Homo sapiens: one gene and its partners. The protein of the gene in region 2 interacts with the protein of the main gene of each other region in a pairwise test. Each region holds a gene or a part of one and is shown on either strand. Other genes may lie near its edges. The genes, in order: NFU1, FKBP7, FARS2, TMEM229B, TARS2, TMEM54 and STX7.

What was found.
Region 1: the proteins of FKBP7 (region 2) and NFU1 interact in binary tests that used the Homo sapiens proteins (3 or more experiments, as listed by UniProt).
Region 3: the proteins of FKBP7 (region 2) and FARS2 interact in binary tests that used the Homo sapiens proteins (3 or more experiments, as listed by UniProt).
Region 4: the proteins of FKBP7 (region 2) and TMEM229B interact in binary tests that used the Homo sapiens proteins (3 or more experiments, as listed by UniProt).
Region 5: the proteins of FKBP7 (region 2) and TARS2 interact in binary tests that used the Homo sapiens proteins (3 or more experiments, as listed by UniProt).
Region 6: the proteins of FKBP7 (region 2) and TMEM54 interact in binary tests that used the Homo sapiens proteins (3 or more experiments, as listed by UniProt).
Region 7: the proteins of FKBP7 (region 2) and STX7 interact in binary tests that used the Homo sapiens proteins (3 or more experiments, as listed by UniProt).

What each region holds. Positions count from the first base shown.
Region 1 is NC_000002.12:69,430,936-69,434,435, reverse strand, and holds part of NFU1 (NFU1 iron-sulfur cluster scaffold homolog, mitochondrial), read left to right. Parts: intron 1-2,430; coding exon 2,431-2,534; intron 2,535-3,500. UniProt on the Homo sapiens protein: Iron-sulfur cluster scaffold protein which can assemble [4Fe-4S] clusters and deliver them to target proteins.
Region 2 is NC_000002.12:178,472,101-178,475,600, forward strand, and holds part of FKBP7 (peptidyl-prolyl cis-trans isomerase FKBP7 isoform a precursor), read right to left. Parts: intron 1,868-3,500; exon of another isoform or gene 1,755-1,867; intron 1,043-1,754; exon of another isoform or gene 929-1,042; intron 1-928. UniProt on the Homo sapiens protein: PPIases accelerate the folding of proteins during protein synthesis.
Region 3 is NC_000006.12:5,268,013-5,271,512, forward strand, and holds part of FARS2 (phenylalanine--tRNA ligase, mitochondrial), read left to right. Parts: intron 1-3,500. UniProt on the Homo sapiens protein: Is responsible for the charging of tRNA(Phe) with phenylalanine in mitochondrial translation.
Region 4 is NC_000014.9:67,482,222-67,485,721, reverse strand, and holds part of TMEM229B (transmembrane protein 229B), read left to right. Parts: intron 1-3,500.
Region 5 is NC_000001.11:150,497,419-150,500,918, reverse strand, and holds part of TARS2 (threonine--tRNA ligase, mitochondrial), read right to left. Parts: intron 3,390-3,500; coding exon 3,172-3,389; intron 2,418-3,171; coding exon 2,255-2,417; intron 2,023-2,254; coding exon 1,885-2,022; intron 1,704-1,884; coding exon 1,626-1,703; intron 1-1,625. UniProt on the Homo sapiens protein: Catalyzes the attachment of threonine to tRNA(Thr) in a two-step reaction: threonine is first activated by ATP to form Thr-AMP and then transferred to the acceptor end of tRNA(Thr). Also edits incorrectly charged tRNA(Thr) via its editing domain.
Region 6 is NC_000001.11:32,894,095-32,898,389, reverse strand, and holds the end of TMEM54 (transmembrane protein 54), read left to right. Parts: intron 1-70; coding exon 71-264; intron 265-2,420; coding exon 2,421-2,480; intron 2,481-2,646; coding exon 2,647-2,835; intron 2,836-2,950; coding exon 2,951-3,085; intron 3,086-3,456; coding exon of another isoform or gene 3,457-3,510; coding exon 3,511-3,585; 3' UTR 3,586-3,795; downstream 3,796-4,295.
Region 7 is NC_000006.12:132,471,617-132,475,116, forward strand, and holds part of STX7 (syntaxin-7), read right to left. Parts: intron 760-3,500; coding exon 666-759; intron 1-665. UniProt on the Homo sapiens protein: May be involved in protein trafficking from the plasma membrane to the early endosome (EE) as well as in homotypic fusion of endocytic organelles. Mediates the endocytic trafficking from early endosomes to late endosomes and lysosomes.

The DNA of each region.
Region 1 (3,500 bases), about 110 Mb from region 2:
GCGCTGTGGCTCACGCCTGTAATCCCAGCACTTTGGGAGGCCGAGGCTAGTGGATCATGAGGTCAGGAGTTCAAGACCAGCCTGGCCAAGATGGTGAAACCCTGTCTCTACTAAAAATACAAAAATTAGCCGGGCATGGTGGTGGGCATCTATAATCCCAGCTACTTGGGAGGCTGAGGCGGAGAATTGCTTGAACCCAGGAGGCGGAGGTTGCAGTGAGCCAAGATCGCACCACTGCACTCCATCCTGGGCGACAGAGCAAGACTCCGTCTCACAAAAAAAAAAAGAAAAAAAAAAGTGAAGTGAAGTTACAACACTGGGTTAATATGTTTCCATCCAAAAAGCATATAAAAGGCAGGGCATGGTGGCTCACGCCTATAATCCCAGCACTTTGGGAGGCCAAAGTGGGAGGATTACTTGAGCCAGGAGCTGGAGATCAGCCTGAGCAACATAGTGGTAATCCATCTCTACCAGAAGTAAAAAAAAAAAAAAAAACTAGCTGGGCATGGTGGCATACAGCTGTAGTGTCACCTACTTGGGAGGCTGAGGTGGGAGAATCACTTGAGCCTAGGATGTTGAGGCTGCAGTGAGCCCTGATCACACCATTGTACTCCAGCATGGGTGACAGAACAAGACCCTGTCTCAAAACAAAACACGAAAAGCGTGATCAAGATCGTTGGCTGTGTAATCCCAGCATTTTGGGAGGCCAAGGCAGGTGGATCACTTTAGGTCAGGAGTTGGAGATCAGCCTGGCCAACGTGGTGAAACCCTGTCTCTACTAAAAATATAAAAATTAGCCGGGTGTGATGGTGTACACCTGTAATCCCAGCTACTAGGGAGGCTGAGGCAAGAGAATCACTTGAACCCAGGAGGTGGAGGTTGCAGTAAGCTGGGATCGCATCACTGCACTCCAGCGTGGGCGACAAAGTGAGACTCAGTCTCAAAAAAAAAAGACGGGCCAGGTGTGGTGTCTCATGCCTGTAATCTCAGCACTTTGGGAGGCCGATACGGGAGGATCACCTGAGGTCAAGAGTTCGAGACCATCCTGGCCAACATGGTGAAACCCTGTCTCTACTAAAAAGTACAAAAATTAGCCAGGCATGGTGGCGGGCACCTGTAATCTCAGCTACTCGGGAGGCTGAGGCAGCAGAATTGCTGGCACCTGGGAGATGGAGGTTGCAGTGAGCCGAGATTGTGCCATTGCACTCCAGCCTGGGCCAACAACAGTGAGACTCCATCTCAAAAACAAAAAGGACAGTCGTATACTTTTTTTTTTTTTTTTTTTGGAGATGGAGTCTTGCTCTTTGGGCCAGGCTGGAGTGCAGTGGCACGATCTCGGCTCACTGCAACCTACGCCTCCTGGGTTCAAGCGATTCCTCTGCCTCAGCCTCCCGAGTAGCTGGGATTACAGGCGCCCACCACCACTCCCAGCTATTTTTTGTATTTTTAGTAGAGATGGAGTTGCACCATGTTGGGCAGGCTCGTCTCGAACTCCTGACCTCAGGTGATCCACCTGCCTTGGCCTCCCAAAGTGCTGGCATTACAGGCGTGAGCCACCACCCCTGGCCCAATAGTATACTTTCTTTTAGATTTTTTGAAGTATTGAAATACTTTTCAAAACAGGTAATATAGGTTATCTTGAGAGAGGGAAACGTAAGGGACAGGAAAGGAGGGAGGCTTTCACTATTTATGCTTTTTTCCCTTACCAGTTTTGAACCATGTGACTCTATTGCCTAATTCTAAATTTTTTAAAAAAATAAAAAAGCTTATAGTTATTTGCTTCCTTCCTGTATAACCAAGAGTCTGGGACTATGGGTTATAAATTACTAATGTAGATACAATTCTGTTTCTTTTTTTTTTTGAGGTAGAGTTTCACTCTTGTTGCCCAGGCTGGAGTGCAATGGCATGATGTTGGCTCACTGCAACCTCTGCCTCCTGGGTTCAAGCAATTCTCCTGCCTCAGCCTCCTGAGTAGCTGGGATTACAGGCATGTGCCACCATGCCCGGCTAATTTTGTATTTTTAGTAGAGATGGGGTTTCTCCATGTTGGTCAGGCTGGTCTTGAACTCCCAACCTCACGTGATCCACCTGCCTCGGCCTCCCAAAATGCTGGGATTACAGGCGTGAGCCACCTCACCCAGCCCAATTCTGTTTCTTATACCTCAATGTTATATTATCCTGTGCACACCCGGTTATCAAGGGTAGGAATTTCCATTTGAGCTCTACCTGATTTTGAATTGTTTGTAGATATTGCTTGCCTAAGTAAGTGGAAATAATGTAGATGGAAGATGAAAAGTCAGTTCTCTAATTATTTCTATTGCGGGTTATGTTTAAATTTTACATAGGTCTTTTTTATACATGAGAAGTAGAAACCAACTTTAAAAGATTAGAGCTCTTAAAATGTCATTCATTATGTGCTTTTAAATGCAGGTTCTGTCATATGTTGAAGAATCCATACACCATTAAGAAACAGCCTCTGCATCAGTTTGTACAAAGACCACTTTTCCCACTACCTGCAGCCTTTTATCACCCAGGTAAAATTTCACCTCTTTTATAGCAGTTGTGTTTCAGAAACTGATGGAACTGTGCTAGGATTTTGTGGATCATAAAAGATGAGAATTTGTATATTTTCTATTTAGAAGCCTATAGATAGAATATAGGAAAAAAAGCTATATTTTTCTTATAGGCTTCTAAGTAGAAAATGTATTTGCAAGGATATTGTCCAATAGATCTATGAAATCTCAGTATGTTGTATAACATATCCCCTGCAACACAAGAGTTGCTCAATAAATGATTTCCAAAATGAAAATACTGTAGAAGTTAAAATCTGACTGGGTGTGGTGGCTCATGCCTGTAATCCCAGTACTTTGAGAGGCTGAGGCAGGTTGATCGCTTGAGCCCAGGAGTTTGAGACCAGCCTGGGCAACACAGCAAAACCCTGTCTCTACAAAAAATACAAAAAATTAGCTGGGCATGGTGGCGCACACGTGTAGTCCCAGCTGCTTGGGAGGCTGAGGTGGGAGAATCCCTTTAGCCCAGGAGTTCAAGCTTGCAGTGAGCCGTGATCACACCACTGTGCTCCAGCCTGGGTGACAAAGTGGGACCCTGTCTCAAAAAGAAGTTTCAAATGGGGATTGTGTTTCAAAGAATTCTATGTATTTAAAGCTACTGCTGTCCTTTTTTTGGATAAGAATACCCTTAAAATTAGTAAATTTCTGGCTTTCATCCAGACCTTAGAACACAGGATTTTGAATGTAGTAAAAAACTACATTCAAAAAAAAGAAAGAAAAGCTTTTTTGTCAAAATTAATTACTATGGTTTTGTTAATAATCTTGATTGTTAACGAGATATATACTTTAATTTTCTTTAATTTGGGAAATAGATATGATTTAAAATAATTTGAAGTGTGATGACTGTAATGTAGAGTTAGGGAAGTTTAAGGGGAGAGGGTATGTGTGTCTGCATGTGTGTATGTATGTAAATGTATACCTATATGTGTT
Region 2 (3,500 bases):
AATCTGTTCTGTTGCCCAGGCTGTAGTGCAGTGTCGCGATCTTGGCTCACTGCAACCTCCACCTCCCGAGTTCAAGTGATTCTTGTGTTTCAGCCTCCCAAGTAGCTGGGATTACAGGCACAAGCCACCACACCCAGCTATTTTTTGTATTTTTAGTAGATACGGGGTTTCACTATGTTGGCCAGGCTGGTCTTGAACTCCTAGCCTCAGGTGAGCCACCCACCTCGGCCTCCCAAAGTGCTAGGATTACAGCTATACGCCACTGTGCCCAGCCCAAAACTTGAATTTCTTAAGAAAAAATATTGTAGGTACATATGCAGTTTTTGAACAATTTTGCTATAAACATAGAAAATATTGGCCGGGCGCAGTGGCTTATACCACTTTTTTTTTTTAGACAAGAATCTTCCTCTGTCACCCAGGCTAGAGTGCAATGGCGCGATCTCGGCTCACTGTAACCTCTGCCTCCCAGGTTCAAGCAATTCTTATTTGGCTTATACCACTGCGCCTGGCCAGGAGGGCGAGATCAGCCTGGCTGGCCAGGAGTTCGAGACCAGCCTGGCCAACATGGCGAAACCCCATCTCTACTAAAAATACAAAAATTAGCCAGGCATGGTGGCGTGTGCCTGTAATCCCAGCTCCTCGGAGGCTGAGGCAGGAGAATAGCTTGAACCCGGGAGGCAGAGGCTGCAGTGAGCCAAGATCAATCACACCACTGCGCTCCAATCTGGGTGACAGAGCAAGACTCCATCTCAAAAAAAAAAAAAAAAAAAAGGATATATTGCCAATTACCTCTTTTTCTTGTTTTTTTTTTTTTTTTAAAAAAAACTAAAGTATAAAAATGAGGAAAATATGCATTTGCTACGGAATTACTTATATTTAGAGAAGCAGATCAAAGAAGTAGGAATTAAGGTAAAGAATATATACATACCGCATGTATTGTTATTTAAGCACTAACAAGTCACATGCATTTCAAGACATGCAGGGTTGTTCTGTGACATGAGACAAGGATATTTTGCAGAAGAAAGACTTCTTCAAGTACTACCTAAAATAAAGTTATAGCTAATGTTAGGTCTTAATAACAACTTACTTTTAAATGCTTATTTAATCAAGAGGTTGTTTGTTAAACAGTTACTTAAGGTCTACACTGCAACTTTTAAAATAATGTAATCCAAGGTATTGGATTACAATGCCTAATGTAACGCAGGCAAGGTCAGTATTAACTATGGTCCAATTAACACTTTTTTTGGGCCTCAGTTTCTTACTCTGTAAAATGAGGGTGCTGGTGGTATTACTAGTGAGATTAATCACTTTAATGTTTGTTAGAGATACCTCCAATTGAATATGAACTTGTTTCACATCAAACTTCTATATCTCTGCAGCAAGTTTCTGATTTATTAAGAGCTTAGGCAGCCTGGGTAGTCATTCATATCTAAGCATAAATTAGTTTATGAAAAAGATAAGCTAAGTGGTCCTTTGCCTGATGGCGGTGAACCCTGGATGAGCACCTGATGATGACAGATGTGTGTGCTCTAGGCAGATAGGAGAGTGGGTGCTCTAGTGGTAGGCAGAATGTGGAGGCATCTGAAGACACAACGCAAGACAGAAAGGAAAACTTTGAAAATGAGAAAGAGACTGAAAGGCAAACTCTGCCTCCAACATTTTGCCTAGAAGTGGCCTCAACTTTTGACAACATTTTTAGCACAAGTATTGCATTTGACTTAATTTATTTTCAATTTTCCTTCTCTTTCTCCTAGGTTCCTATACAAATAAAAACAGGATATATGAATTATGGTACCATGGGAGCTGTTCTGATGGGATCAAATTATTGGCAAAAAGCATTAAAAATAAAGCTGAAGTTATCTGGAAATTGTCTCTTTAGGAGTTTTAAGCCTGACTGGGTCTGACTCAAAGCACTGACACCCCCCCACCACCCGCCAATCCAGTGTGGGGCACTGATGCCCCGATTTTGCTGGAAAGAACTCTTAATGACTAAGACAACTGCCTCAAAGAAGGCATGCCACTTCCATGAAATATTTGGGAGCAATGCCAATATCTCATTGTGGAAAATTAATCTTTACTATTTCAAACCGGTGGAGTCAGCAGTGGCTCTAAATAGGGTAAGGAGGCAAAGATTCTTTCTGTATAGCCTTCAAGCAGCAACACGGAGCAAGAACCTAACTAAGGATGCAAGGTACAGCCTATCAGGCTGCCCATCCTCCTGCCTGCTTTAAAAATTTTCTTCTCTGTTCTGCTACATGCAATTTTTGTAATTTAAAATTTTAATTTTGGAAAAATTAATACATGCCTTATAAAACTTTCAAATGGTACAAAATGTTAGAGTGAAAAGAAATCTTCTCATCCTTGACCCTGAGGCCTCCTTCCCAGGAACACTTAATGTCATCAGATGACTGCATATTCTTCCAGATGTATTCTGTGTAGATACATGCATATGTGAAACTCCTCCTCTGAAATGAAAGCTCATAGAGGATTGGGAGTAGTGTCTACTTTGGTCACTGCTTTATGCCCAGTGCCTAGAACAAAGCCTGGCACTGATGCTCAATATATATCCCAAAAGTGGAATATAGTCTTGTCCACTTTTTTTTTTGAGCCAGGGTCTTGCTGTGTTGCCCAGATTGGAGTGCAGTGGCACAATCACAGCTCACCGCAGCCTCGACCTCCCAGGCTCCAGGGATCCTCCCATCTCAGCCCCCTGAGTAGTTGGGACCACAGGCGGATACCGCCACGCCTGGCTAACTTTTTAATTTTCTGTAGAGATTGTGTCTCCCTACATTGCCCAGGCTGCTTTCAGACTCCTGGGCTCAAGTGATCCTCCCACCTTAGCCTCTCAAAGTGCTGGGATTATAGGCATGAAGCCACCATGCCTGGCCTCCACTTTATTTTTAACATATTAATAAGTATAGCTCTACTTCATTCTTTTTACTGGTTACACAGTAATTCATTGTATAGATATACTATAATTTATTTAACTAATTTCCTATTGATGGATAGGCAGGTGGTTTCCAACCTTTTGCCACCCTCCCACCCAAAAATGCCTGCAGTGAATGTTCTTTTACATATACCTTTGTGCACATTCCTGGAAATGGAACTATTGGATAAGAAGGCACGTGCATTTTCACTTTTTTTTTTGAGATGGAGTCTCGCTCTGTTGCCCAGGCTGGAGTGCAGTGGCGCAATCTTGGCTCACTGCAACCTCTGCCTCCCAGGTTCGAGCGATTCTCCTGCCTCAGCCTCCCAAGTAGCTGGGATTACAGGCACACTCTACCACACCCAGCTAATTTTTGTATTTTTAGTGGAGACGGGGTTTCACCATATTGGCCAGACTGGTCTCGAACTCCTGACCTGAAGTGATCTGCCCACTTCAGCCTCCCAAAGTGCTGGAATTACAGGCATGAGCCACCACACCCGGGCCTGCATTTTCACTTTTGATAACAGTTGATAGAGAAGTTGAATGATTTCCATTCCCAGCAATAATGCTGGTT
Region 3 (3,500 bases), on a different chromosome or scaffold from region 2:
GTCTGTTCATATCCTTCGCCCACTTTTTGATGGGGTTGTTTGATTTTTTTCTTGTAAATTTGTTTAAGTTCTTTGTAGATTCTGGATATTAGCCCTTTGTCAGATGGATAGATTGCAAAAATTTTCTCCCATTCTGTAGGTTGCCTGTTCACTCTGATGGTAGTTTCTTTTGCTGTGCAGAAGCTCTTTAGTTTAATTAGATCCCATTTGTCAATTTTGGCTTTTGTTGCCATTGCTTTTGGTGTTTTAGACACGAAGTCCTTGCCCATGCCTATGTCCTGAATGGTATTGCCTAGGTTTTCTTCTAGGGTTTTTATGGTTTTAGGTCTAACATTTAAGTCTTTAATCCATCTCACATTAATTTTTGTATAAGGTGTAAGGAAGGGATCCAGTTTCAGCTTCTACATATGGCTAGCCAGTTTTCCCAGCACCATTTATTAAATAGGGAATCCTTTCCCCATTTCTTATTTTTGTCAGGTTTGTTAAAGATCAGATGGTTGTAGATGTGTGGTATTATTTCTGAGGGCTCTGTTCTGTTCCGTTGATCTATATCTCTGTTTTGGTAACAGTACCATGCTGTTTTGGTTATTGTAGCCTGGTAGTATAGTTTGAAGTCAGGTAGCGTGATGCCTCTAGCTTTGTTCTTTTTGCTTAGGATTGACTTGGCAATGCGGGCTCTTTTTTGGGTCATATGAACTTTAAAGTAGTTTTTTCCAATTCTGTGAAGAAAGTCATTGGTAGCTTGATGGGGATGGCACTGAATCTATAAATTACCTTGGGCAGTATGGCCATTTTCACGATATTGATTCTTCCTATCCATGAGCATGGAATGTTCTTCCATTTGTTTGTGTCCTCTTTTATTTCATTGAGCAGTGGTTTGTAGTTCTCCTTGAAGAGGTCCTTCACATCCCTTGTAGGTTGGATTCCTAGGTATTAGAACTAGAAATACCATTTCACCCGGCAATCTCATTACTGGGTATATACCCAAAGGATTATAAATTATGCTCTGTAAAGACACATGCACACATGTGTTTATTGCAGCACTGTTCACAATAGCAAAGACTTGGAACCAACCCAAATGTCCATCAATGATAGACTGGATTAAGAAAATGTGGCACATATACACCATGGAATACTATGCAGCCATAAAAACGGATGAGTTCATGCCCTTTGTAGGGACATGGATGAAGCTGGAAACCATCATTCTGAGCAAACTATCGCAAGGACAGAAAACCAAACACCGCATGTTCTCACTCATAGGTGGGAATTGAACAACGAGAACACTTGGACACAGGATGGGGAACATCGCACACCGGGGCCTGTGGTGGGGTTGGGGGAGGGGGGAGGGATAGCATTAGGAGATATACCTAATGCCAGCATGGCACATGTGTACATATGTAACAAACCTGCACCTTGTGCACATGTACCCTAGAACTTAAAGTATAATAAAAAAAAAAATGAAAATAACCAAAAAAAAAAAAAGAGAAAAGAAGAGTCCTTTCATTGCTGTTTAGCAGTATCTCATTTTAGTAATTTTTCTAGTGACATATTTGAAGTTCTGATTGACTTCTTCGAATGAGTGTATTAGCCGCCATCTCTTGTTTGTTCAGGTCAGTAGGTTGTTTACAGAAAACATTTAGAATTTGCAGTGTTGAGTCTGTTTACAAAAAACAGCCTACATTTTGCTAATCACTGGAAAAATACTAGGTCAGTGTCTTAAGATGTGCAATACTGAGATCTGTGATGTTAACTGATCTCTCAGAGGATGGGTCGATACATATCGTTGATAGTATACTGTAGACTGTTATTAACAATAGAAGATATACAGAGAATTCATGATTTCTTTGGTATTATAGTGAATTACATGATTTAATATTTTATAACGTTTTAATGTAAACATTTATTTTCTGAGCACAATTGAAGCACTTCAGCCTGGCAAACTTGTAATCTGTATGTGTAATTGTGAGTTTGAGTTAACTAACAATATTTAAGAGTTATAAAAGCCTGGCTTCTGTGAAATGGATTACAGTAATATTGGCAGAGAGTAAAACAGTTAGTTTCAGTTAATGAAGATGAGTTTTTTGGGAGAATTATCTTTTTTTAAATCAATTCCTGGAATTCTGCAGTGCAAAGGGAAAGTAAAATGAAGCAGTCATGAAATAGAAAAAGCTTAGCAGGCAGCATACTTTCTTTCCTGTTTCTTGACGTTCTGAGATAAGCACATTGTTATTTATTTCAAGTCTTGGAGCACTTTGAGACAAGCACATGTGCCTGGGCATTCATAACATTAAGCCCTGTTAGGAATCCCACTTACACCCTTGGCTTCTGCGTACTGTGAGAGCTGGGCTGGATGATAATTACAGTCAGCTTTCATTTGTAGAGCCCAGGTCTTCAAATAATTTCCAAGTAAACTATCCCAGATTAATACGTTTCAGGACATAAGTGTGGTTCGCTAGAGCTGTCAAGCTGTCTGGATGCCCTTCTGTTAACTTTGTAGAAGAGATTCCACGTGTGTCAAGTTACAGTGTTTGCTGAAATTTTTCTGTTGTCTTGAAAGCTATTTGAAAATGAAATGTTCATTATAGTACTGGTGGTCAGGTATGTTCCTTAGATATATATGAATTAATGTCACCACACTATAGACAGTAATTTTTATATCACCTTCTCTCCAAAAACCTGCAGCACTTTTAGGATGAAGTCTAATTCCTTAACACAGCCTATGAGACCCTGACGACTATGGCGCTTACCCACTTCTCCAGTCCCATGTCATACCTTTTTATTTTTCGCTTGCTGCTTTTCATTCTTTAGTACTCACCTCTTTCCCCTCTACCCTGGGGACCTTTGCAAATGCTGATCCAGCTGCCTGGAGTGCCCTTCCTTCCCTTGCTAATTATTCTTCTGATCTCAGTTTAAGAGATGCTTACTCAAAGCTACCTTCTCTAACTTGAGTACATCTTCCTCTGTTAAGCTCCCTTAGTATGGTGAATTGCTCTTCAGCTTAGAGTGACTGCCATTGCAAGTAACTGAAGTCAAATTGTTTTAAACAAACCTAGTGGCTTTATTGTCTCCTGTGTCTTGAGGGTTCAGAAGCCAGATGGGCTTTAGGGTTGATTGGTTTGAGTGATGTTGCCAAAGATTCAATTTTGTGCTTTTCTCTACTTTGTCTTCTCTAACGTAAATTTTATCGTCTGGCCAGAGTCCTCTCTCTCGGTTATGGGAAACCATCAACAGTTTGGGGGCGCTTGTTTCCAAAACCTTAGAGGAGTGAGAGAGCTTCTGGACCAAGAGTGCTCAGCAGTCCTCTCCGTTCATGTCACTGGCCCTCCTTGTGTCATGTCCTCATCCATTTCTGAACCAATAACTGTGACCAGGGAGAAGATAGGATTCTTTTGGTCTTGAACCAGTTGCCTAGCTCCTAGAGATAAAGGGGAATTATTTTTTGTAAAAGGAACAAAGTTCACTAGAGCAATCTTGCCAGAGTTATATTTTTTTATTTGATT
Region 4 (3,500 bases), on a different chromosome or scaffold from region 2:
GCCTTAAAAAATGACAATTGGCTGCTTTCCCAACCCCCAGAGGCCTGTCTGGCCTGAAGGCTGTTATGTCTGTGCAGGGCCCGTAGCCTGGTGGGATCAGAGGCCTGCAGGAAGGAAGCTCCCCAGAAGGCATGGCAGGCAGAGCTGGGCTTTTGCAATCTTGAACAGACAAGCTTTTTTTGGAGTTCCTAGGCTGGTCCATGGGAACCCAGAGCTTCAGATTCCATGCAGGAATTTGCAGGGAGTAGAAAAGGGGTAATCAGGTCTTTTTCCACTTTAGGTAGATCTTGACTCTCCTAGTTGACAGTTTATAATTCAGGGCCAGAATCTGTTTTCCACTCAGCCTGGGCTTACAAAGTCAGTTTGACTGGAGAGTTTCTCAGGAAGTGTGTTCTTGAGTTGATTTGTAGCCAGGGTGGTGTGAGCAAGCCTAGACTGTAGGAGGGGAGTTGGGGGTAAAGAGATGGCCATGGGTGCCTCTGTGGGAACGTCGTTCCTCAGATGGGAGGCACATCTCCCCAGAGCAATTTATGCCATCAGCCTTAAGGCTGTTGTACCGTTTGGTTCAGTGATTCTCCTTCTGGAATTATCCATTAAGATATATTATTAGGAAATAGTACCAGAGAAGAAAAGGGCTGAATTCTTCCATTACAGGCATTAAAGGTAATTCTCGTTATATCATCTGTAGTAGTAGAAATGGGAAACAACTGTTCCCTTTGGACATCTAGGTTAAGTAAATTACAGTTTTCCGCTTGCTGGAATATTACACAGCCATTATAATAATGAGCACAGAGGCTATATAACAACTTGGAAAAACAGTTATGACAAGTAAAAATGGCAGGTTGCAGAATAAGTATATTATGGTGACTTGTAAAATACACACATAGGAAAATATTGCAAAGGAGAAATGGTAATCGCTGTTAGTTCAGAATTATGAGTGCTTTTTCTTTTTTTTTCTTTATTAGAAATGAGGTCTCACTATGTTGCCCAGGCTGGTCTCAAACTCCTGGGCTCAAGCAGTCCTCCCGCCTCAGCCTCCCAAAATGCTGGGATTACAGGTGTGAGCCCCCATGCCCGGCCTATGAATGCTTCTTCTATGATGCATGGATTGGCTTTTTAAAAAATAAAATTGAATCCGGATGACTACACAACATACCATTAATAGTGACTTTCTCTAAGATGTGTGATTACAGGGAACTTTTGCTTTCTATGTCATTCTGTAATGTTTAAATTTCAGCTGTGAGCACATGTTGCTTTTATAATTAGAAAAAAAATTAAATGCTAGAATTAAATGTTTTAGAAGGCTATATTTCTCAAGAAAGGAGGGAAGAGAGACCGAGGCAGCTAGCTGTTTATACCTGCCCTCATCAGTGTTTAAGGGCCTGGGCCTGTTTGGGCCCACTCATCCATCCATTCATTCCACAAGTATTACTAGGTATTATTGCCAGGCACCACTCTAGGCACTGACTAAACAGCAGTGAACAAGACAGTGCCCCTGCTCTCATGAAGTTTTCATTCTAGTTGAGGAGAGACAGACCATAAATAAGTAGCAACATATCAGAAAGTGAAAGTGCTATGTAGAAAATAAAATGGAATGATGTGAGTGACAGAGAGGCTATTTTGGACTGGGGATCAAAAGTCCCTGAGATATGACAGCTCAGCTGAGATCTGAATGGTAACAGCAAGGCAGCCACATACAGGTCTGGGATGCCAGCCTGCCAGTCCCCCGTGCAGGGCATCCTTCGCTTTCTGAGCCCCAGGGACCTCTGTGCCAGAACTGACTCCATCCCCCAAGCCCACTCACCCTGCCCTGCCTCCTGCTGCGGTTTGCTTGGGATCTGAGGCCCCCTGAAATCCTCTGTGTTCGGACCGCTCCTCCTGACATGCTGGCTGTTGCTCCTCTGGGCAGCTGGCCCCTGCTCTTGGCTGGTGTCTCCATGGCAGGGCTGGGCCGGGCCATCTGAGACTCCCAGGAGCACTGGTGTGGGCTGGCAGTCAGGGGGCCTCTGGGTTGTGTGTGTCCTGGTGAGGGGCCTTTGAATGGCGCATGCCTTGGGGCCTGAGGGTTGGTTGCTGTCATGGTCCTGTGACTGTCAGCTTTGACCCTGGAGGGCCTCTGTGTGGATCCCGAGGAACAGGCTGGGAGCCTTTAGGAACTCTGACACCCAGTTGGGAAGTTTGTTAATGAACCACCTAGAAGTTCACAACCTTCTCCTTGCTTCCTGTTGTCTCTCCACATACCATCCCAGCCTTCCAGAAGCAGGAACTCAGAAAATGGTAGTGCCCTCAGAGGAGCCTGCAGTCAGCCTCGGGGGCAGTGCAGTGTGCTGATTAGGAGCAAAGACTCTGGAACCAGATTTGTGGGGTTTGAATCCCAGCCTTGCCTTTTATAGTTATTAGAATGTAGGCTCGGCCAGGTGTGGTGACTCGTGCCTATAATCCCAGCACTTTGGGAGGCCGAGGCAGGCAGATCACTTGAGGTCAGGAGTTCAAGACCAGCCTGGCCAACATGGTGAAACCTCGTCTTTACTAAAAATACAAAAATTAGCTGGGTGTGGTGGCAGGAACCTATAATCCCAGCCTCTTGGGAGGCTGAGGCATGAGAATTGCTTGAACCCGGGCGACAGAGGTTGCAGTGAGCCAAGTTCACACCACTGCACTACAGCCTGGGTGACAAAGTGAGACTCCATCTAAAAAAACAAAAAACAAACAAAAAAAGAACGTAGCCTCTTTCTGCCTCACTTTCCCCATCTGTAAAATGGGCTTGAGAATTTTTTGAGTTAATACATGGAAATACTGAGAAGAGCACCTGGTTATTATTATTACTGTGACTTGGGAGGTGGAGGGAGGACTTCATCAAGGCCTGCAGTATCACTAATCCCAGGGGCTTTCCTTGGGGGGCACCCACAGCAAGAGGGTGGAAGTCTGCAGCATGTGCACCAGCCAGTGGCTACAGGAGTTTCCCTCCACTTGCTTCCCTTCTGGCCCTGGGCAAGCCCTATTTTCCTCCCTGCTAACTTGATGACAACAGGGGAAGTTCAGGGAGGTTTCTGCCCTTTCCTCATTGAAGCCACTTATCTTCAGCACAGAGCCGCCCAAGGGCTCCTGAAGCTGTCCCCCGCTGCGTTGCCTCAGGGGTCTCCTAGAAGGGCTGTGGGTCTCCCCAGAACATGGAACTGTAGTGATGGGGGTGGCTGGGGATGGGGAGTGAAGCTTGGGAAGTGAGTGGAGTGAAAGCGGAAGGCCTTCCCAGCCCGGTTGCATGGGAGGGGAATCCCAATTTTCTGGCCAGATGCTTCTCTGGACAAAAATTCCCAGAGTCACTGTGTTGTGGCACCTTAGCCCCCTGAAACAAGATGGGAGTTTTTGACAAAACCAAGGGCAGTTATTCCATCTGGTTTTGCCTTCAGCCTGTCTTAGACTTTTATGGCAGCCTCTTTACCCCTCTCAACTGCTGGCCATGTCCCCTGCCACCCTGTGGAACAGCAGGCTCGGAGAGC
Region 5 (3,500 bases), on a different chromosome or scaffold from region 2:
CTCCAGGAACTTCCCTTTACAACAACTTCTCCCTCCAAATAGACTTCCTCTCATCATAGCATTTATTTTATTTTTCATTTTATTATTATTTTTCTGAGATGGAGCCTCACTCTGTCGCCCAGGCTGGAGTGCAGTGGTGCGACCTCGGCTCACTGCAACCTCCGCCTCCTGGGTTTACAGGTGCCTGTCACCACGCTGGGCTAATTTTTGTATTTTTAGTAGAGACAGGGTCTCAAACCCCTGACCTCAGGTGATCCACCTGCCTCAGCCTCCCAAAGTGCTGGGATTATAGGCGTGAGCCACCGCCCCCAGCCTGTTTTATTTTTACTTTTTGGGACGGAGTCTTGCTCTGTTGCCCAGGCTAGGGTGCAGTGGTGTGATCTTGGCTCACTGCAACTTCCCAGGTTCAGCGATTCTCCTGCCTCAGGCTACTGAGTAGTTGGGACTACAGGTGTGTCCTAACACCTCACCCGGCCAATTTTTATATTTTTAGTAGAGATGGGGTTTCGCCACGTTGGCCAGGCTGGTCTCGAACTCCTGACCTCAAGTGATCCACCCACGTCGGCCTCCCAAAGTGCTGGGATTACAGGCGTGAGCCACCACACAGGCCTCATTTATTCATCTTCTAACTCCACCCTCAGGCCCTACTTTACTGAAAATGGTCCTTTGAAATCCAGCAGCCTTTTTACTAAATCCAGTGGACACTTTTCAGTCCTTTTTTCCCCTTGGCTTCTTTTTTTTTGAGACAGGGTCTCACTCTATCACCCAGGCTGGAGTGCAGTGGGGCGCAATCTCGGCTCACTGCAGCCTCTACCTCCTGGGACCAGGTGATCCTCCCATCTCAGCCTGCTGGGTAGCTGGGACCACAGGCACAAGCTACTGCACCCGGCTAATTTTTTTTTTTTTTTTTGGTAGACACAGGGTCTCCCTGTGTTGCCCAGATTGGTCTGCCATGTGTTTTCATCCTTATCCCCAGCCTCTGCCTACACTGTTCCCTCCTGAAACACATCTTTACTTGGCCAACACTCACCTTTCAGATTGGAAAGTGATTCCTGCAGGACACCTTTTGTAACCTCCCCGAGTAATGCTAACCCCAGCTAACGTGCTCTCTTGGTACCTACACAGCACAGATCTCGCAGCACTGATATGGCCTATTTACCTTCAGCAGCCCTCACTAGATTGCAGATGCCAAGAGGGCAGAAAGTATATTGTTTTTCTTTATATCCTACGTAAGTTTAAAAATATTTCTTTGTGGCCGGGTGCGGTGGCTCACGCCTGTAATCCCAGCACTTTGGGAGGCCAAGTGGGGTGGATTGCCTGAGGTCAGGAGTTCGAGACCAGTCTGGCCAACATGGCGAAACCCCATCTCTATTAAAAATACAAAAAAATTAGCCGGGTGTGGTGGCGTACACCTGTAATCCCAGCTACTCGGGAGGCTGAGGCAGGGGAATTGCTTGAACCAGGGAGCTGGAGGTTGCAGTGAGCTGAGATCACACCACTGCATTTTAGCCTGGGTGACAGAGTGAGACTGTCTCAAAAAAAAAAATTCTTTGTATCTATTAAATATTTACTAAAACAAAGCAAAAAATAAATAAATACAACACTAACCAGGGTCCCAAGCTTACCTTAGGTCCATAGAAGGCACCATCTCCAGAGTTGAGGTCCCAGGGTTCTCCAAATTCCTTCAGGGCCTGTTTAAGGACCTTTGAAGGAATGAGACAAGAGTGGAATACATCATCTTAGACTTCAAAAGCAACACATCCGGTCAGTCCCCAACAAATGACCCACTCACCAGATGCCTCTGAGAACCTTGATTACTGTATTCTCCACTCCTTCCCACCAGAGAGTGGTTTATCTGCCTCTATTTCTCTACCTCCTACTCACCTGTTCGGCCTGGTCCCAAAGGCAAGGGTCCCCCAGGAAGCCAGATGGCCGGGTGGACAGTGCCAGGCGGAAGGAGAAGCCAAGAACGGCATAGACGGAACGGAGGAAATCAAGACAGCTTTGGATCTCTGCTTCCAGCTAGGGGCAGGAAATAAGGGTCAGTGAGCTGTGAGCCCGCTAGAGATCAGGGATGCTGGCAGTTTGAGGAAAACAAAGGGCAAAAACAGAGAGGAAGCGGAAGCAAGCTGGGGGTAGAATGTAGCTGAATTATAGTACATACAGGGGGCAAATAAAGATCAGGGGTTTGCAGGTTCATAGGGAGAAAGAAAGGTGGTTTAGAAAAGCTTTGGTGGAGCCAGGGAAAGGCCACCTGATCTGTTGTACAGAAGATGTGAGCGTCATCCTGCTGGAAGCACCGCAGTCGGGTCAGTCCCCCCAGACCACCAGAGGCTTCGGCCCGGTGTAGAGCCCCAAAGTCAGCTAGTCGCAGGGGCAGTTCCCGCCAGGATCTGGGCCGGTGGGCGAACATCAGGCTGAGGTTGGGGTGCAGAGGGGTCAGGGCCATAGGGAGGACTAGCCCCCGAAGACTGCTCCTCCACCCAATCTGCTTGCCTACTTTCTCTGCACCATCTGCTATAACCCTCTCCAGCCTCAGCACATCCTCCCACTGAGTCCTGTCAATCCCACTCATCACAGTCTGAGCCCTGAGGTTCAAAAGTGGATTTCTCAGTAACACAATAACAGACATCGTTTACCATTTCCCTGTTCTGTGATGGTCACTGAGCTGAAGGAGGAGCCTTAGATAGCAACTTTAAGGAGACTGAGACCTAAAGAGGTAAAATGAGTTTCCCAAATTTACATGGTTAGCTAGGGGGAAGACTGTAGGCTCAAATCGGTGTCCCAATACTCTTTCCAAGGTGCTTTCTTTTTTTTTTTTTTTTTGAGATGGAGTCTCGCTGTGTCACCCAGGCTGGAGTGCAGTGGCGCGATCTCGGCTCACTGCAAGCTCCACCTCCTGGGTTCACGCCATTAGCCTGCCTCAGCCTCCTGAGTAGCTGGGACTACAGGCGCCCGCCACCGTGCCCGGCTAATTTTTTGTATTTTTAGTAGAGACAGGGTTTCTCCATGTTGGTCAGGCTGGTCTCAAACTCCCGACCTCAGGTGATCCGCCCGCCTCGGCCTCCCAAAGTGTTGGGATTACAGGCGTGAGCCACCGTGCCCGGCCCCAAGGTGCTTTCTATTATTTAATATTTAGCAACCTGATTGTAACCCTAGCTCCCAGCTTACCAGTGTGCAGGGCAGTTCATAGGCTTGAGGGCGAGTGTATCTGTGATATGCCTGGTAGAATCGTCACTCTGGGAGCTGGGAGGCCTGTCAGAGCCTGGGGGCTGCACGGCAAACATGTCTTCCTGATAATGCTCCCAGTGCCCTGACTGTTCCCAGAGCTTCGTAGAAAACAGTGTGGGAGTTTTCACCTCGGAGAAACCACGATGGGCATACTCAGCCTGGAGAGGAGGGTACAGACATGGAAGGTCAGAGTAACTGGAAGGAAAGCAGGTAGGGTGTCAGCTGTGTGATCTTCCTGGGCCCTCAGGCCATGCTGATTGCAACCACAA
Region 6 (4,295 bases), on a different chromosome or scaffold from region 2:
GGCCTCAGCTTCCCCTTCTGCCCAGCAGGATAAGCCCCACGCACAGCCCTGACATAGCTGTCCCCCACAGGAGGCCTGAGTGTGGGCGACTTCCGGAAGGTGCTGATGAAGACAGGCCTGGTGCTGGTGGTGCTGGGCCATGTGAGCTTCATCACAGCTGCCCTGTTCCATGGCACAGTGCTGCGCTACGTGGGCACCCCTCAAGATGCGGTGGCTCTGCAGTACTGCGTGGTCAACATCCTCTCTGTCACTTCCGCCATCGTGGTATGGCCAGGCTGGGAGGGTGGTTGGTGGGAGGAGGCTGGAGGGGGCTTGAAGGGTCTTCAACAGGTCCCCACCCAGAGCCTGTGGTGGTAAGCAGACAGCCTCAAGGACTAACCCTTTGTCTGCCACTTACCAACTGCCCAAGTCACTCAACTTCTTCATCTATCAAATGGAGATGGTAACAGTGTTTACCTCTGAGGGTCCTAATGGGTACTGATGAGATCATCCACACAAAGTGCTTAGCAGAGTGTCTGGCATGGCATGTTGTTAGCACCCACTACTGTGAGCTAGGATGATTATTACATCGAGGAATAGCCACAGCACCACTGGACAGAAGAAAGGAGCAGGAGGTGAGCTTGGGAGGGTGCCGGAGGGTTTCACAGAGTGCAGGCCTCTGACCTGGGTATTGATGGATGAGCAGGAGTTCACAGACAGGCTGCCATGACCAGAACCTACATATTGGCATGCTGAGGCTAGCATAGGCAGGAAAGGAAGCTGAGATGGCATTCCGAGTACAGAGAATGGGAGACGGGAAGGTTGGAGGTGGAAATGACTAAGATCTGTTCTGGAGATTCTGAGAAAACCAATTTGGCAGGAGCTTAGCATTAGGCCCGGTCTGTAGCAACTGCTCAATGAATGGTAGCCACGGTTGTGACCAGATATCAGTACCTGTTTGACTAGCACATGAATGGAGGGGTCTGGTAGTCTCAAGTTTCTAAAGCTCTTTCTTGCCGGTCAGCACAAGTGGCCACAGCCTCGGGGGAAGATCCTCCCGCACATCAGTGTCTGAGTTCCATCCCTGCCTTCTCCTGGCTGAGGGACTTATTTCTCTCTCTAGGCCTGTTCCTCCCTTGCAAAATAAAGCTCAGACAGCCTGCTGGCCTCAAGGCTTGGGAGAATGGGAGTCATAGGTCCCAGCAAGAAAGAGAGGCTCTGTTGGTGGGACAGGGCTGGGATGGGCGGATGTGTGCAGGGTCCTTGGAGTTCCTCTAATACTGTTGTGAGGAAGGCAGGGAAGGCAGTGAGCTCAGGGCGAGGAGGTCCACCAGGATGGACTTTGAGCTGGACCACTTCAGCCTTCCCCTCACTTACTCGGTTAATCCTCACTTCTCCCAGCAACTGGGGGCCATTATTATACCTGTTTCACAAAAGAGGAAACCAAGACTCAGGGATTCACCCAACCTCCTGCTGATACACAGAAGCCAAACCAGATTGGAAACTATTTGTGTCTGACACCAAAACCAGTGTCCTTTCTGTCAGCTCATCCTGCAGAGTGGGGCTAAGCCCACAGAGATGAGGCACTCTGTTGTGGCTCTCATGTGAACTAAAGACATGCTAGGCCTGGAACCCAGGACCCCGTCATACCACCTGCCTCAGATGGGTCCGGCCCAAGCCTGGTCCAGTGAGGAACATCAGGAGGAAGGCTGGCTGGGTGGACCCCAAAGATCCAGAGGGCAGCTGTTGGGCTGAACTGTGGGGTAGCCCCACCCCTTGGGATCGAGGCTGGTTAGGGAAACGTGTGCAAACCTGAGCAGGGCTTGCAGGATCCACACGGGCAGAGGAGCAGGAAGGTGAGAGGGTGCATGGGCAGTGTCCTGAGCAGGCTGTGTATGGGCATCCACATCCAGAGCAGTGAGGGAGGAAGGTAGCCCAGGTAGGGCTGAGAAGCCAACAGGGTTGGGGCTGGGATCTGGTCACTGAGAGCCTGGAATCATTGAAAATACTCCCAGAGATTTAAAATTCTACTCCATAACATGTCTTGGTTTGTTTCAATGTAACAATTTTGATTTTAGTTCCTTGCTAACTGGGTTAGTTTCTTCCACAATCTTTTTCATTCCAGAAAGGGGTGTCCCATGCATACCCTGGCATGCCCCGGTGGCCCCAGGATACATGAACCTGCTTGAGACACAGGCTTAGGAGTGGGGACTCATGGAAGGTTGTAGAGAGGGAGTGACTGTTTTAGAAACATCATGTCAGGCTGGACTATGAGGAGGCAGATGGAGATGTGAGGCCCAGGCTAAGCAGCAGGTGAGGGGTGGGGGAGTCTGGAGGGCAATGGTTGGCGCCGGTGAGATCATTATCCCAGAGTGGCCCTGATCCCCCTGCCCCTGTTCCTCCAGCCAAGGAGTCAGGGCTGACTTGAGCCTTCCCTACAGGTCATCACTTCAGGCATCGCAGCCATCGTGTTGTCACGCTACCTCCCTAGCACCCCCCTGGTACGTGGTGCCTCCTGGGATGGGGCTGTGAGGGAAGGGTAGGGGCAGCAGCCACCCGCCAAGGGCCTGGCCTCCTTGGAGAGGGTAAGGCTGACCCTCAGGGAGGCCAGAGCTGCCCATGGGGGCCAAGCACGACGCCCATTGACCAGTGGCCTCCCCCGTCCAGCGCTGGACAGTGTTTAGCTCGAGCGTGGCCTGTGCTCTCCTTTCTCTGACCTGTGCCCTCGGCCTCTTGGCCTCCATCGCCATGACCTTTGCCACCCAGGGCAAGGCACTGCTGGCTGCCTGCACTTTTGGGAGCTCTGAACTACTGGCCCTCGCACCTGACTGTCCCTTCGACCCCACACGCATTTATGTGAGTACCTAGGCCTGGAGTAGGGGCACCAGGCCCTCGCACGGGTGGGAAGGGCTCTTGGAATCCACCCTCCACCCCCAACTCCAGCCAGCCATCTCTGCCCCATGCCCCGCAGAGCTCCAGCCTGTGCCTCTGGGGCATCGCCCTAGTGCTCTGCGTGGCGGAGAACGTGTTTGCTGTACGCTGTGCTCAGCTCACCCACCAGCTGCTGGAGCTGAGGCCCTGGTGGGGGAAAAGCAGCCACCACATGGTAAGTTCCCTCCACAGCCCTGACTCCCCGAATTTCCTGGGAGCCCCTGCCAGGGTGCCCAAGCTGCTCTGCCCCACCCCTATGTATGGGCCCCCACCTTGAGAAATGGGGCAGAAGTTTTCTCCCCAGGAGCAAAGGGAGAGGCCTGGAGGCTGGGAGAGGTGAGATCTCCCAGCAGAGTCACACAGCTGACACCTGGCTCTCCTAGGGCCCAGGATGAGTCTTGAGGGAGGGGCAGGGGTGTCTGGGCTCGCACTGAGGGCATTGCAAAGGTCAGGCCTGGCTCTTGCAGTGGAGTGGGTAGTGATGCCCCTTTGCCCCCAGAGAGCCTTCCAGCCCTCACCTCCTTCCATTTCCCGGATGTCCTGGAGGAGGAGACCCAGGCTGAGAACCAGTGGGTCTGGCAGCCTCCTGTGTCTCTGCAGATGCGGGAGAACCCAGAGCTGGTGGAGGGCCGTGACCTGCTGAGCTGCACCAGCTCTGAGCCTCTGACCCTCTGAGAGATGATGTCCTGCCCAGGCCCGATGGCCACTAGGACCCTGCAAGCAACTCTGCTCTGTGACCAGGCCAGGATTCCTGGAGCTGGCCTGAGAGGGCTCAATGGACCCTCGGGGACCCAAGTGGGGCTTTCAACCCTCTCCCCCACCACCCAGCCCACTGCACTGAAATGAGACTTTATTCTGAAATTATTAAAAAGAACAGAGATGCTCCATTTGGCTGCATGCAGGGGGGGCGGTTGGGGGGACAGAGGGGAGGACAGGGGCTCAGCCAGGGGGACCGTGTCTCTTTCCCACGCAGGACACTGTGCATGGGGCTCTGGGTGCATCTGCCCATCTGTCTATGGGCCTGTGTGTGTGTGAGAGGCCAAACACAGAGAGCTCCGTGGGTCTGTGTGTATCCAAGTGCTAAAAGGCAGGCTGGCTTTCTGGGGCCCACAGCTGGCGGGCTAGTATCCTGGAAGGTTTCACTTGGTGGCTTGGCCTAGGGACCAGCAAGGGCTGGGGTGGGAAGGGTGGCTCAAGGAAGCCTCTTTCTCCAACTCCACACCCCTAGAATCCTTCTCTCCCCTCCAGATAAAAAGTCTCCTCCCCTGGGCATGACTCCCCCCACCCCGCAAGCTGAGACCTGCAAGAAGGGGACTGCCCCTTTGGGGGAGGGGTCGGGCCTTGGGGCTGGTGGGTGGGTAAGGGGGCCTGACTGAGGGGCAGAC
Region 7 (3,500 bases), on a different chromosome or scaffold from region 2:
AAAAAGCCAACTAGAATCTAGCTGTGAAGTTCAACTGAATTTGCGGTAGTTGGCTCTTTATTTAACCCTGAAGTTTTCACTTACTCCCCAATTACAGGGCCTTACAGATTAACTCTCAGTAACATTCTGATAGTATGTCAAATACTGTGCATATTTAACTTGAGGCAAAAGACCCATTATGCTGGATTTCTCACCTCAGGTTTTCACGCTGCTAAAAACTAGCTTATTATTTTGAGGCTATTTTAAAGTAATTCTTTTTCAGGCAAATAAAGCCTTATACTTTTAGCTAAGTAATAACTTCCATTAAATAAGCAGGGAAATAAATATGTGCCCCCAGGACACCTCACATCTTGAATGAGCCTGCATGTTCCACGCAGTCAGCCCCGGAAGGCCAGGAAATAATTACTCAGGAAGCATTTTCTGAGAACTAACTTAATTATGGGTCAGGGCAAATGCATGGAAATAATTTTTGCTTTATTGAACCACAGGATACTACCTGAGCAATTAAATATAGTTTTGTGTTCTGTGAACTAATCTCAAACAGAATTATTTTTGATTTCCTTTCTAGCATAATTTCCTTTCTAGCGTAACAGTTCAAAGATCCTACAGTGCACTGGGTTTTTTTCACATTCAATACATCAACAATGTGTCTTAAAGCTTGATACCTGTTCACTGGGGGTGGTGGGCAGAGATCCAAACTCTTTAATGTACTTATCTGTTTCTTTGGCAAGCTGGTTAGTATACTGCTGCTTCTGTTGCCTAAAGTGAGAAAACACGCATTACAGCCAAAGGACTAATATACTTCTTTAAGCTTCAACTCTGCCTTTTGAATCAACACTGATAAACAGTTGTACAAAAATTGCCTTTTCATAAACTGGCTCTCAACTTTCTCTATCAAAAAAAATTTCATATCCTATTCTTTGATAAATAATGAGCAAATATTATATGTCAGGTTCTTCACTCACACAGGGTAGGCAAGCTTAGAGAAATCAATTCAACGGCCATTTAGAAACACAGATGACTTGAATCAGAGGGAACCTGAAGGAGAGACTGTTAGATGTCTGATCCTTTATGTTTGAGATACTGGGGATGTGGAAGCCCTTTATCTGCATCTCACACCTGGAAGGTCAGGTAAGCAAGAAAAGATTTGTTACCTTAGACTTTGCCCAGTTCCCAGATCTAGTTATATCTGGCCTCTCTTATTTCTCTATGTGAACATGTATATGCTATAGATACTTAAAAAAAAGGCGGGGGGGAGGGGCCAGGCATGCTGGCTCACACCTGTCATCCCAACACTTTGAGAGGCCGAGGCAGGCGGATCACTTGAGGCCAGGAATTTGAGACGTGCCTGGCCAACATGGCGAAACCCCATCTCTACCAAAAATAACAAAAATTAGGTAGGTGTGGTGGAGCATGCCTGTGATCCCAGCTACTTGGGTGGCTGAGGCAGAAGAATCACTTGAACATGGGAGGTGGAGGATGCAATGAGCTGAGATTGCACCACTGCACTCCAGCCTGAGCAACAGAGGAAAACTCTTGTCTCAAAAAATAAAAATAAAAAGGAAAGAGGCAATATTGGTACAAATTTACTATTATTTAAGTTTACGCTGGAAAAAATAATGGCATTTCCTTGTAAAGGGAAAGAACACAATAAATAAAAGAAGTAAATTATAGTCATCCCTCAGTATCTGCAGATTGGTTCCAGGACCCCTGTGGATACCAAAATCCGCTGATGCTCAAGTCCCTGATATAAAAAGGTATAGCATTTGCATATAACCTATGCATATCCTCCCATATCTTTAAATCATCTCTAGATTATTTATAATACCCAATACAATAATGTAAATGCTATGTAAATAGTTGCTATATTTTATAGTTCAGTTTTTTTTTTTATTATTGTGTTGTTTTTTTTTTTTTCTTGAATATTTTTGACCTGCAGTTGGTTGAATCTGGGGATATATAATCTATGGATACAGAGTGCTGACTACATATCCATATTTTATCTAGCTATCTTATAAATTGAAAAGATTTCCAACTTAAAAACATGACACTAAAAAAAAGCTCATATTAATTGTGATGTTTTACAAATCACAACATCAGTACCTCTTATATATTTCATCTCATTTTAAATATGGTCTGGTCACACTTGGGGTCCTTTAAAATAATGAGATATTGTATAAGAATATGCTTAAGAATAGGGATCTGTATTTGACTGACAAAGGGTAATTAAAATCTATTTCTATCTCTATTTACCAAATACCCTATCTTTAATGCATTTTTGTAAATCTCTGGAAATCATAATATAGTCAAAGTTTTAAAAAGAAGACCTTAGGCTGGACATGGTGGCTCATGCCTGTAATCACAGCACTCTGGGAGGGTGAGGTGGGTGGACTGTCTGAGCCCAGAATTGAAGACCAGTGCCGGCAACATGGCAAAACACCATCTCTACAAAAAATACAAAAATTAGCCAGGCATGGTGGATGTGCCTGTATTCCCAGCTACACAGTAGGCTGAGGTGGGAGAATCGATTGAGCCTAGGAGGTCCAGGCTGCAGTGAACCGTGATAATGTCACTGCACTCCAGCCTGGGTGACAGCATGAGATCCTGTCTCAAAAAAAAAAAAAAAAAAAAAAAATCCTTAGTGACTACGGATATATATTCAGAATCTTCATTATTAACTCTATCAAAATATTAGAACTTTTATGAATTATGTACTTCTATTCCATTTTACTTTAGTTTAATGAATTGTGGTTTATTATTTAGATTTGGAGCATTTTTACCATTCTGACACTTACCCACTGTGGAAAAATAAAATATAAATTAGAGATAATTGTAAGTCCTTCAAATTGTACTTCCTAAAAATATGAATTCCTATTACCTATCTTTTAATATCGTCCTCTTTGCAGTTTTCCCTCTATAGTTAATGTTGTTTAGAAGTATTGCTTACTAGATATATGTGACTTGAAATTTACAGCTGTAACAGTACTGAAATAAAATTTAAGAGTTAAGTTCTAAATGACATTGGGTAACTCGTTAAACCCGTAAGAGACATGAACAAAATGGAAACAGTTCTTTTGGTCTATTTCTCTTACTCTAATTCTGTAAGGTTTAAATGATAAAATATGTAAAAATACTCTGTAAAATCCACAACATACCACAGACAAAATATTATCACTATGACTGCTGGTCTTCTAACAGCATATTAATTTACTGGAATATGTACTATATAATTCATTATAACTTTTTTTTAAACGGAAGCTAATGCTCTCTGAAATTCAAGGATGTAGGTATAAACTTGTGGGGAGACAGCTCACGTAGCTGGTTATGTATTGGATCTAAACCAAATAAAACTCTGGTGACTGCGGGGATTTTTAGCTATGGAAAGTAAATCACATAAATTGAGATACTAGAGTATAATTTTTCAACAGCTGTCAAAAACAACCTACCTAAAAACTGTAAGAAATGCAACTAAAGAAATTCTGCTTTGATAGGGTAAGCCT